Regions from separate parts of the Homo sapiens genome. Here region 2 is linked to region 1. The links come from fine-mapping of genetic effects on gene expression. A gene starts in region 1. The other region holds a variant in brackets. All regions are shown on one strand. Distances are between the middles of the regions.

Region 1 (5,393 bases):
AAAAGTATTCCAGTGGCTGCAGCCTGCTGAAAGCATGAGTGAGATCTGGGAATTCAGATAATCTCAGAAATCACATGCAAGCATTACAGAACTTACAAAACAGTGCCATGTGGAGATCGGCTGTGGTGTGAATTGGAAGACATGGTTTGCTCCTTGGTAAATGATACACAGGAGTCCCAGGGAGATTTTATCATTAGTTTGCTGAGAACAAGATGTGAACCCTTTAAGGAGCCCTTTTCTGTAGAGACAATCTTAAAGAACCAGCCCAGTGTATGAAATTACTAGAGTGTATATATCTGAAAGCTTAGGAACTTGGGTTTATGCAAACACTCCCCCGCACCCCCATTCCCATCAAAGGCAGTTATTTAGCTGAGTGATTCAAGCTGTGGCAATAACTTATAAAGGGTGGGGGATAGGTGTGGTTTGGGGGACTTAAACCACATCTGTCTTCCACCCTTCATGAAATTAAGGAGGTAATTGATTCAATTCATCCACTTCACTTTCTCTGAAGAACTGATTGCCCCTACTAAGTATAAAGAACAACCTTTGTTGTTCCCCCTGTTCATTAGCTAGCCAAATACTTTGCTCTTTTTCACTTCGCTCCCCAGACTACTTTCTAATATGGTTATATTTATGAACACCTCACTACATGGTTTCTAGCTGAGAGATTATGCATTGCATTTGATAATTTCAGAGAATATTTCTTAGCAGCTTCAATTAGTAACTACACTCCAACTGCTAGCTTCCTGCTCCCAAACAGTGCCCCCACCACAAACACATACATATAAAGCACATGGTTATGTTTTCTGTAAAAAGTAGCTTCTCTGGCTGGTACTGAGGTGGTTGCCTTAAATGTGTACTTCTTTCAGTTGATGTAAACATCATCTACATGCCCATCATCCCTGGAGTCACCTATTTCATTTCTTCATCTGCAAATGATGATTTTCATTCTTAAAAGTTCTTTTGTGTCAGGAGCTTGAGCAGTGATGTTCTGTATTGTTTTGTTTTGGAATAAGGCAGGTTAGGTTCCCTTTAACCATTTCTAGAGAGAAAAATCCTAAACAGCCCCTTAAAAGAAAACATGGCATTAAAACAGACAGTCAAACAGTAAAAAGTGGTTTTATTAGGACATTTAGAGACAAAGCAACTGGTGCTGTGCCTGGATTTTTCATCTCTTAAAAGGTTGTTTTGGCTGGGTGTGGTGGCTCATGCCTGTAATCCCAGCACTTTGGGAGGCTGAGGCAGGCGGATTGCCTGAGGTCAGGAGTTCAAGACCAGCCTGGCCAACATGGTGAAACCCTGTCTCTACTAAAAATACAAAAATTAGCCAGGCATGGTGGCGGGCGCCTGTAATCCCAGCTACTCGGGAGACTGAGGCAGGAGAATTGCTTGAACCCAGGAGGTGGAGGTTGCAGTGAGCCAAGATCGAGCCACTGCACTCCAGCCTGGGTGACAGAGTGAGACTCCATCTCAAAAAAAAAAAAAAAATTAAAAAGGTTGTTTTGATAGTGTACAGCACAGCCTGGATAACTGCAAAGTTGGGGTTTACCACGTGACAGAGCTAGGTATTAAGCCCAAGTGACCTGAATGATCACTCCTTGGAGGTGACATAAACCCTGTCGAAGTGTAAATGATCTGTTGCTTCACCATCTCTCTGATATTAAATTTTGAGGAGTGGGTTCAAGGTTGTGCTTCAGGGGACACCTACACTTATTTATCATGTAAAACAAAATGCACTAGACTACCATGTGATTGCAGGGGGATAAATGGTTTTTTTCTTAAAAAAAATTGACAAAACCTATATAGACCATCCTGGGTAGATATGAAAACAGGGTGATTCTAATAATAAATAAGACGATTTAATAGGGTCTAGTTGGTCCCAAGATTCCCCAACAGGGAAGAATAAGCAACTGCAGAGCATTTCCCCAGCCCCCTCCCTCTCCTTATGACAGGACACGCCAATAAAACTCCACCTCCTACTCTTCAGTGCCAGATGGGTAAGCATTTAGCCAAGCATGCTGGGAGACACACAGAACTGAAGCAAAGGAGTATCTGGATGTCTTGGATTTTCTTCCCATTCTGTTCTGTTCTGTTCTCCTAATACCATCTCGTTACTAGACGTAGGCATTGGACGTGACAATCAACTGCATTTGAACTGAGAAGAAGAAATATTAAAGACACAGTCTTCAGAAGAAATGGCTCAAAGGCAGCCTCACTCACCTAATCAGACTTTAATTTCAATCACAAATGACACAGAATCATCAAGCTCTGTGGTTTCTAACGATAACACAAATAAAGGATGGAGCGGGGACAACTCTCCAGGAATAGAAGCATTGTGTGCCATCTATATTACTTATGCTGTGATCATTTCAGTGGGCATCCTTGGAAATGCTATTCTCATCAAAGTCTTTTTCAAGACCAAATCCATGCAAACAGTTCCAAATATTTTCATCACCAGCCTGGCTTTTGGAGATCTTTTACTTCTGCTAACTTGTGTGCCAGTGGATGCAACTCACTACCTTGCAGAAGGATGGCTGTTCGGAAGAATTGGTTGTAAGGTGCTCTCTTTCATCCGGCTCACTTCTGTTGGTGTGTCAGTGTTCACATTAACAATTCTCAGCGCTGACAGGTGAGTTTCTTTTCTCCATTATATTTGCCAGGATGTGAAATTGGGCAAAAAGAAAGGAAAGCTTGTACTTAGCATTTACTGGCTACTATTCTGCTTTTCTCACACTCTGTAACGTGGATGTGAGATTGGAAAATCTGGTGGCATTTAAAATAAAAGTTAGTGTAAGAATGTTAAAATTTCTGTGTTAGCACGGAGGAGAAGTTGAAATTGCATGCTTTATGGATAATTTATTCTTATTGTTTGCTCGGAAGTATACTGAACGGGGTTTTTATTTTTCTCCAGTTTATTAAGTAAAGCAAATTGTTCCAGGTGTAAAGGAAAAAAATTCATGCTTTATACATTAGTGCAGCCTAGTGGTGCAATATAGTCAACATGAAAACCAGGATAGGTGTGAAATTGACCACATATGTATAACTGTATATTGGAAGAGTGGTAAAAAGACACAGGCATCTAATTTATTTGAAATTCATCAAATTAGCTAATGGCAGAAAAACGGTGAGGTTTTCAACTCCCTGGTAACTTAGTGTAATGTCATCACGTAATTCTACTTGTTTTCTCTGTAGGCATTCAGTGACATTATCATTTCCAGAGAAATAAATTAATCTTGGTTGACTTTTAGAGCTCTGTGGAGAGAGCGTGTGAGATCCTCTTGCAGTCAGGGTGTTCAGATTCTGTGTTAGGATATTTTCAGTCCAAGTACTCTGTTTTTCTGTGTTCCTATTGTAGAATAACTGTAAAAACATGAAAAAATTTGAGGCTCCAAATGTTAAAAATGATGCTTTACAAAGCCTGCAAGATTCCTGTAAGTAATCGATGTTTGGCAGTACCAGAAGGAATAACTTCTTCAGATTCTAGAATCTGAGAGGAGGAAAACCTTTCCCTGTGTCTTTTGATGATTTTTGCTTTGACTGGTCTTATATTCTATTTGAGGGCAGACTGGCTTAATGACTGTAGATTTTAAGGTGGATTTGTTTGAATGAGGAGGTATCTCTGTACCGGCACAGGACTTCTGATTGCAACTTTGCCTCGCCCTAAATCTGTCCACTGATCAGGTTGGGCAACGAATTAACACTTACAAACGGGGAAGAAATTAATCCTCTCCTCTTTACCACATAAACCCTTGGAATTCTCTTCTAGGAAGGTTGATAACTGTTCACTCATGAAGAAAGGAAAATTAATTCAGTTTAACATCAGTCACTTATACAAAAGAAGTCTTTTAGGTACCTTAAGTGTATTACACTTAAGGTAATACACAGGTGGTGAATTACTCTCAGTCACACATAAAGTCATGCTGATAAATGTTTATTTGTCCTAAATAGAGAGTCTATACATAAAATTATAAAATTGCAAATCTGGAATATCTCATAGGAGTGAATAATGGAAAAGGAGATTAGCATAAATAAAAATATTGGGATGTATTATGTGCATTTAAAACCATAGCCAATTCTAGTTGGTTAATGTTGACTTGGTTATACACATATGCACGGAGGGTAGAACTGGATGACCACTAAGGTCACTTCTCACCCTAAAATTTGGTAACTTTGACATTTATTTGGACCTTTGCCTCTGATTATGTGTTTCTAGATACAAGGCAGTTGTGAAGCCACTTGAGCGACAGCCCTCCAATGCCATCCTGAAGACTTGTGTAAAAGCTGGCTGCGTCTGGATCGTGTCTATGATATTTGCTCTACCTGAGGCTATATTTTCAAATGTATACACTTTTCGAGATCCCAATAAAAATATGACATTTGAATCATGTACCTCTTATCCTGTCTCTAAGAAGCTCTTGCAAGAAATACATTCTCTGCTGTGCTTCTTAGTGTTCTACATTATTCCACTCTCTATTATCTCTGTCTACTATTCCTTGATTGCTAGGACCCTTTACAAAAGCACCCTGAACATACCTACTGAGGAACAAAGCCATGCCCGTAAGCAGGTATGTATTAATCAGTACTCATGCAAATCTAGTTTGAATTTAGAAGTGAAGTTCCTACTTTTGCACAGTGAGTAACTGTGTATCTTCCTGTTTATAAATGCAATAGCAGTGTAGTATTTTTGTTATGAGCATAGGCTCCGGTTTGAATCCCAGTTCTATCACGTACTAGCTGAGTAATCTTGAGCAAGTTACCTAACCTTTCTGAGCCTCGGTTTCCTCATCTGTAAAATGAAGATGATTACTAGATGATATAGATGAAATGCTTAGGTGCAGAGTAAGTATTTCAATAAATGGTAAGACTACTACTATTAGAGAGGGGACAATTGAAGTTTGAGAGTAGTCAAAATTTTTTACCCCATGGAATAGTGGGGAACACTGCATAAGATGATACTATGAAGAAAAGCATCTTTTGTTTTAGAAAGTGTAACAGAATAAAAATACATAGCATATAGAACTGGCAAGAATCCGTAACACTATTCAATGCAAACCACTTACACACAGATGAGCAAACTGAGGTGGGGAGGAGTGAGGGGAAAGAGTGGAATGCAAGTAGCACGAGAACACAGTGACTCACAGAAGCTTGATTAAGACCACTGCAAGAGCCACGTGTACCCTCCCTCTCATAAATATGGACAGAATAAAAGGAATGTTGCCAAAACATAGTTCCATTTGATTAAAAATATTTTTCTAACCTCTGGGAAAGGGGGAGAGAGGATTCCATTTACCCCTTGATCGGTACGCAGAGAACTGTGCCTTTTTTAGAGCTAGTCCATTCAGTTAGTTTAACAATGGTGCTCATGAGACTGAAGTTGCATATTTAATACCCAT
Region 2 (5,393 bases), 530 kb before region 1:
TAATTTCAAATGGATTATAGATCTAAATGTAAAATGAAAACCTACAAAACCTTTGAATGGAAACATAGGAGAATATCTAGATGAGCTTAGGTTTGAAAGTGAACTTTTAAATTCAACACCAAAAGCATGATCCATGAAAGAGAAACCTGATAAGTTGATCTTTACTACAATCAAAATTTATCTGTGATAGACACTGTTATGAGAATGAAAAGAGAAGCCACTGACTGGGAGAAAATATTTGCAAAACCCACACGTGTAAAGGACTTGTATTCAAAATATACAAAGAAGTCTTACAACTCAACAATTAAGCAAACAAACCAGTTTTAAAATGGGCAAAAGACCTGAACAGATACCTCATCACAGGAGAAATGCAGATGGCAGATAAGCACATACAATGCTTAACATCATTTGTTGTTAAAGAACTGCAAATTAAAACAAAGAAATAGCACTACACACCTATTAATAACTAAAATTCAAAAACTGACAATACCAATTGCTGGCAAAGACATGGAGCAACAGGAACTCTTATCCATTGCTGATAGGAATGCAAAATGGTCCATTGCTGATAGGAATGCAAAATGGTACAGCCACTTTGGATGGCAGTTTGGCAATTTTTTTATTTTTTATTTATTTTATTTTTTGAGACAGGGTCTCACTCTACCATCCAGGCTGGAGTGCAGTGGTGCGAACACGGGTCACTGCAGCCTGGAACTCCCAGGCTCAAGCAATCCTCCCACTTCAGTCTCCTGAGTAGCTGGGACTACAGACATGCACCACCATGATTGGCTAATTTTTTTGTATTTTGTGTAGAGACAGGGTTTCACCATATTGCCCAGGTGGTCTCGAACTTCTGGGCTCAAGTGATCGCCCGTCTTGGCCTTTCAAGGTACTGGGATTATAGGCATGAGCCACCGCATTCAGCTTGGCAATTTCTTATAAAGCTGAACATAATCTCATCATATGACCCAGCAATTCTGCTCCTCGGTATTTACACCCAACCACTTTGAAAAATCATGTCCACACAAAAACCTGCATGTGAGTGTTTATGGAAGATTTATTCATAACCAGCAAAGACTGGCAGCAACCAAGATGTCCTTCAATAGGTGAATGGATAAACAAAGTGTGGGAACATCCATACAATAAAACTATTATTCAGAGATAAGAAGAAATGAATTATCAAACTTCTGAGAGAAATGGAGGAATCCTGAATGCATATTGCTAAGTGAAAGAAGCCAGTCTAAAAAGACTACATACTGCATGATTCCAACCACATGACATTCTTGAAAAGGCAAAACTATAGAGACACTGAAAAGATCGGTGGTTAACACAGGCTCAGCAGAAGGGGAGGGAAGGATAAATATGTGAAGCACAGGGATTCTTATGGCTGTGAAACTATTCTATGTGATAATACAATTGTGGATACCTAACATTATGAATCCATCATAACCCACTGAACTTCCAGAAACAAAAAGTGAACCTTAATGTACACACATTTTTAAAAACCATTTGGGAGGTCAGGAGAATACCAAAATCGAAGGTAGAATGTTACAAAACAATCTAAGTTTATCACAAATTTATGAAACAATCTCACCAAAGGAGGTGAGGGAAAAGGTCCTGACCTAAGTAACTTTCAAAATGAGTAGCCTGTGAAACTAATGGCAACAAATGAACAACCAACAAAGCTACATAATCACTGTGCTCTAGCTGATAAAGTTGTTTCTTGTGGGGGAAAGGGTTAACAATTCTGAAGCCAGTTTATATGTATACTGGAATTAAACAGTTGAAGCAAGAAGAGAGCCGATGGTGGGAGTCGGGTTTCTCAGTTGCAGTGGAGGTTTACAGATAAGCAAAGGGAAGAGGTTAGAATGATCTATGTGGTAATGGATTGAACATCAGTATGAACTCATGTTTCATTTAATGGAAATACAGATGTTACATATTTACACTTAGGCATAAATGCACAGGTTAGTATGCACATATATATTTCCTTGATCTGTCTGCTGAAAAGGCCTAGAGGCAATGAAACGTCAAGCAGCAATGAGCGAACCTAGTGGCCAGATCTTGGTTTGTAATACCATTCTTCAATGAAAGGAACCATGCTCCTTGGAGAAATGGCTGATTCCAGGACTGAGGAAGGAAATATACAACACAAGCCCGGAACATCTTTGTAGTGCCAGGAAGGAAGTACTCAAATAAAAAAAAAAAAATAGAAAACTCACAATGACAACGATGGGAATATGTCAAAGGGACACAGGAGTTTACTGAAAAAGCTACCAATGTCTGAAACTGGAACAATTTCAACAAGATATAGTATTAAAGGATAAAGCAAGGTATGAGTCCAAACTCATAAAAATAAATGAATAAATGGGGGAGAAGAAGCATATCTCCCATGCAGAAGAATTCCAAATAAGTTATGTAGATACTCTGTCCTCAAGGAGGTGGAGCATAACATGTCACTCCTTATGTGTGGGCTGTGCAGAGTGACTTCCTTCCAAAAAGTACAGTATGGAAAGGGGAAAAAACAGTACTTTACAGTGGGGAAACCTGACAAACACTACCTCAGCCAGGTGATCAAGATTAACATCAGCAGTATAAATGTGTCCTTGATATGATGTGATAAGAATAGCACTTTACCTTAGTGGTCTTCCTCCAAAAACACACACAACTCCAGTTTAATAACCGAAAAATCATCTAACAAATCCCAGTAGAGGAAGATTCTACAAAA[T/C]ACCTGACCAGCACTCCTGAAAACTGTCAAGATCATCAAAAACAAGGGAAGTCTAAGAAACTGTCACAGCCAAGAGGAGCCAAGACATGATGACTAAACGTAATGTGGTCCTCTTGATAGAATCCTAGAACACAAAAAGGATACTAGGTAAAACCAAAGGGGCTGGACGCGGTGGCTCACGCCTATAATCCCAGCCCTTTGAGAGGCCGAGGCGGGCGGATCACGAGGTCAGGAGATCGAGAACATCCTGGCTAACACCGTGAAACCTCGTCTCTACTAAAAATACAAAAAATTAGCCGGGCATGGTGGTGGGCACCTGTAGTCCCAGCTACTCGGGAGGCTGAGGCAGGAGGATGGCATGAACCCGGGAGGCAGAGCTTGCAGTGAGCCGAGATCGCGCCACTGCACTCCAGCCTGGGTGACAGAGAGAGACTCTGTCTCAAAAAAAAAAAAGGAAATCTGAATAAAGTATGGACTTTAGTTAATAATAATGTATTAGGCCAGGCACGTTGGCTCACGCCTGTAATCCCAGCACTTTGGGAAGCCGAGACAGGTGGATCACCTGAGGTCAGGAGTTTGAGACCAACCTGACCAACATAGAGAAACCCCGTCTCTACTAAAAATACAAAATTAACCAGGCGTGGTGGTGCATGCCTGTACTCCCAGCTACTCGGGTGGCTGAGGCAGGAGAATCGCTTGAACCTGGGAGGCAGAGGTTGCAGTGGGCCGAGATCACGCCATTGCATTCCAGTAATACCAATACTACTACTACTAATAATAATGTATTGACATTGGCTCATTGTGTCAAATGCCTCATGCTAACATGTTAATAGAGGAAATTGAGTATGGAGTATGTGGGAACTCTCTATACTATCTTCCCATTTTCTCCATAAATCTAAAACAGTTCTAAGAAAATAAAGTTTGTCTAGAGAAAATACCAGCTTAAAAAAGAGGTAGACAGACTTGAAAAGAGACTACAGAGACACACTAATAATGTAATTTGTGAACCTTGGTGGGGACAGCTATAAAAGCTATTTAGGGGATACATGGGGAAATATGAATATGAAACTTTGGGTGGTTGATCCATTTTTTTACCTGTGATAATGGAATTGTGGTTAAATGGGAGAATCTCCTCCCTCTTGCAGGAAAGGCATGCTGACATATTAAGTGATGTCCTGAAGTGTGATGATGAAGTTTGCAACTTAGCTCGAATGAATCAGGAGGGGAGGAAAAGCACATCTGGAGAGAGCAAAAGCAACAGTGGTAAAATGTTAAAAATGGTGAACCTAAATGAAAAGTATACTGGTGTCCATCCTATTTTCTTTCACATTTTCTGTAGATTTGAAATTTTTCAAAATTAAATTTCAGGGAAAATATAATTTTAGATTTGGACAAAATGATATGAAAGCTTATCTGAAAAAAATAAACATGCAGTAACTAGAAAAAATTCCTAAAAATGAGGTATGGACTAGCAATACCCAAGACAAAAATATATAACAATTTAAAATAATTAAAAGACTCGTATTTTTTGCAACAGACTACAGAACCCAGAAGCATATCTAACCAGACATATGGAAATTTGATGTATGAATGAGGATGATGGTTTTTCCAATCAGTGTTGAAAAAGTTAATAAATGGGGTTAGAATAGATTGCTATTGGAGAGAAAAATGTTGAATCCTCTCCTCACTCTTACTACCTAGACAAATTCCAAATGAATCAAAGATTTAAAAGTTGAAAAAAAAACCTTTAAAATACTGGAAAAATACATTAAATTTATTCTTAAATGCAAAGGTGGCCTTTCTAAGCAAGGCAAAATCTCAGAAGCTGTAAAGACTAAGTTTAACTACATAAATAAAACTTAGGAAAATATTATTAAACATGACAATGGACCAATTTTCTTAGCTTACAAAAAGCTCATACAAATCAATAAAACACATACCACCTAATAGAAAACAGAACATGACTACACATTTCACAGGAAATATCAGTAATCAATAAACATGAAAATGTGTTCCATCTCCTTCATTAAAATGTACCAGACCTTCATTAAAATGCATTAGAACTTCATTAAAACGCAAGATACCATTTATTCACTTTCACATGATCAGACTTCAAAAGTTTAGTACCCAGTATTGGCATGGGTTTGGTAAATAATCATTCTCATACATTATATGTGGAAGCATACTGGGCAAAGATTTCTAGAGGACAATTTGGCAGTAACTACTGAACTGAAAATAAAAAATACCCTCTGATCCAGCAATTGTATTGCTAGGTACACTGTAGAATAAAAACTCATTATATGTACAAGTATATTCACCACAATGTGATTTAATATTGGAAACAACCTAAAGAGCCTATCAGTGTTTGAACATTTGTAACACATTCAAACATTAGAATACCACACAGCCGCTAAAAATAATGAGGTATTTTTATATATACTGATACAGAAAGATCTCATAAAACACAGGTAGCAAAAAAAGCAAGGTACAGAAGAGTATATATAGTCTGATTCTATTAATGTGAAATTTTTAAAGTACAAATTTGCTGATAAAAAATAAAAAATTGTTTTCCTGTGAGTACAAGACACTTGAAACTGGTTACTTTTGGAGAGGAGTATTAGGGTAGGAGGGAAGGGACCAAGTTTTTATACCTTTCTGTACCATCTGA

Alleles and levels. Positions count from the first base shown, and alleles are read on the strand shown. Sizes are in standard deviations (SD) of each study's normalised expression.
For the expression in breast of the gene that starts at base 2,028 in region 1, allele T in region 2 goes with a higher level than allele C (moderate effect, 0.66 SD a copy in GTEx).

Evidence for each region.
Region 2: its variant is fine-mapped to the expression of BRS3 in breast (GTEx, PIP above 0.99).

What each region holds. Positions count from the first base shown.
Region 1 is chrX:136,485,920-136,491,312 of GRCh38, forward strand. BRS3 (bombesin receptor subtype 3) reads left to right here and starts at 2,028. Exons shown (of 3, transcript NM_001727.2): 1 at 2,028-2,629; 2 at 4,214-4,565. The coding sequence starts at 2,196.
Region 2 is chrX:135,956,110-135,961,502 of GRCh38, forward strand. It overlaps MMGT1 (membrane magnesium transporter 1), which reads right to left. Exons shown (of 4, transcript NM_173470.3): 4 at 4,479-5,393. Among named protein-coding and RNA genes, the nearest start is that of MMGT1, 15 kb to the right of the region's middle. The variant T/C (reference allele first, on the strand shown) is at 2,726.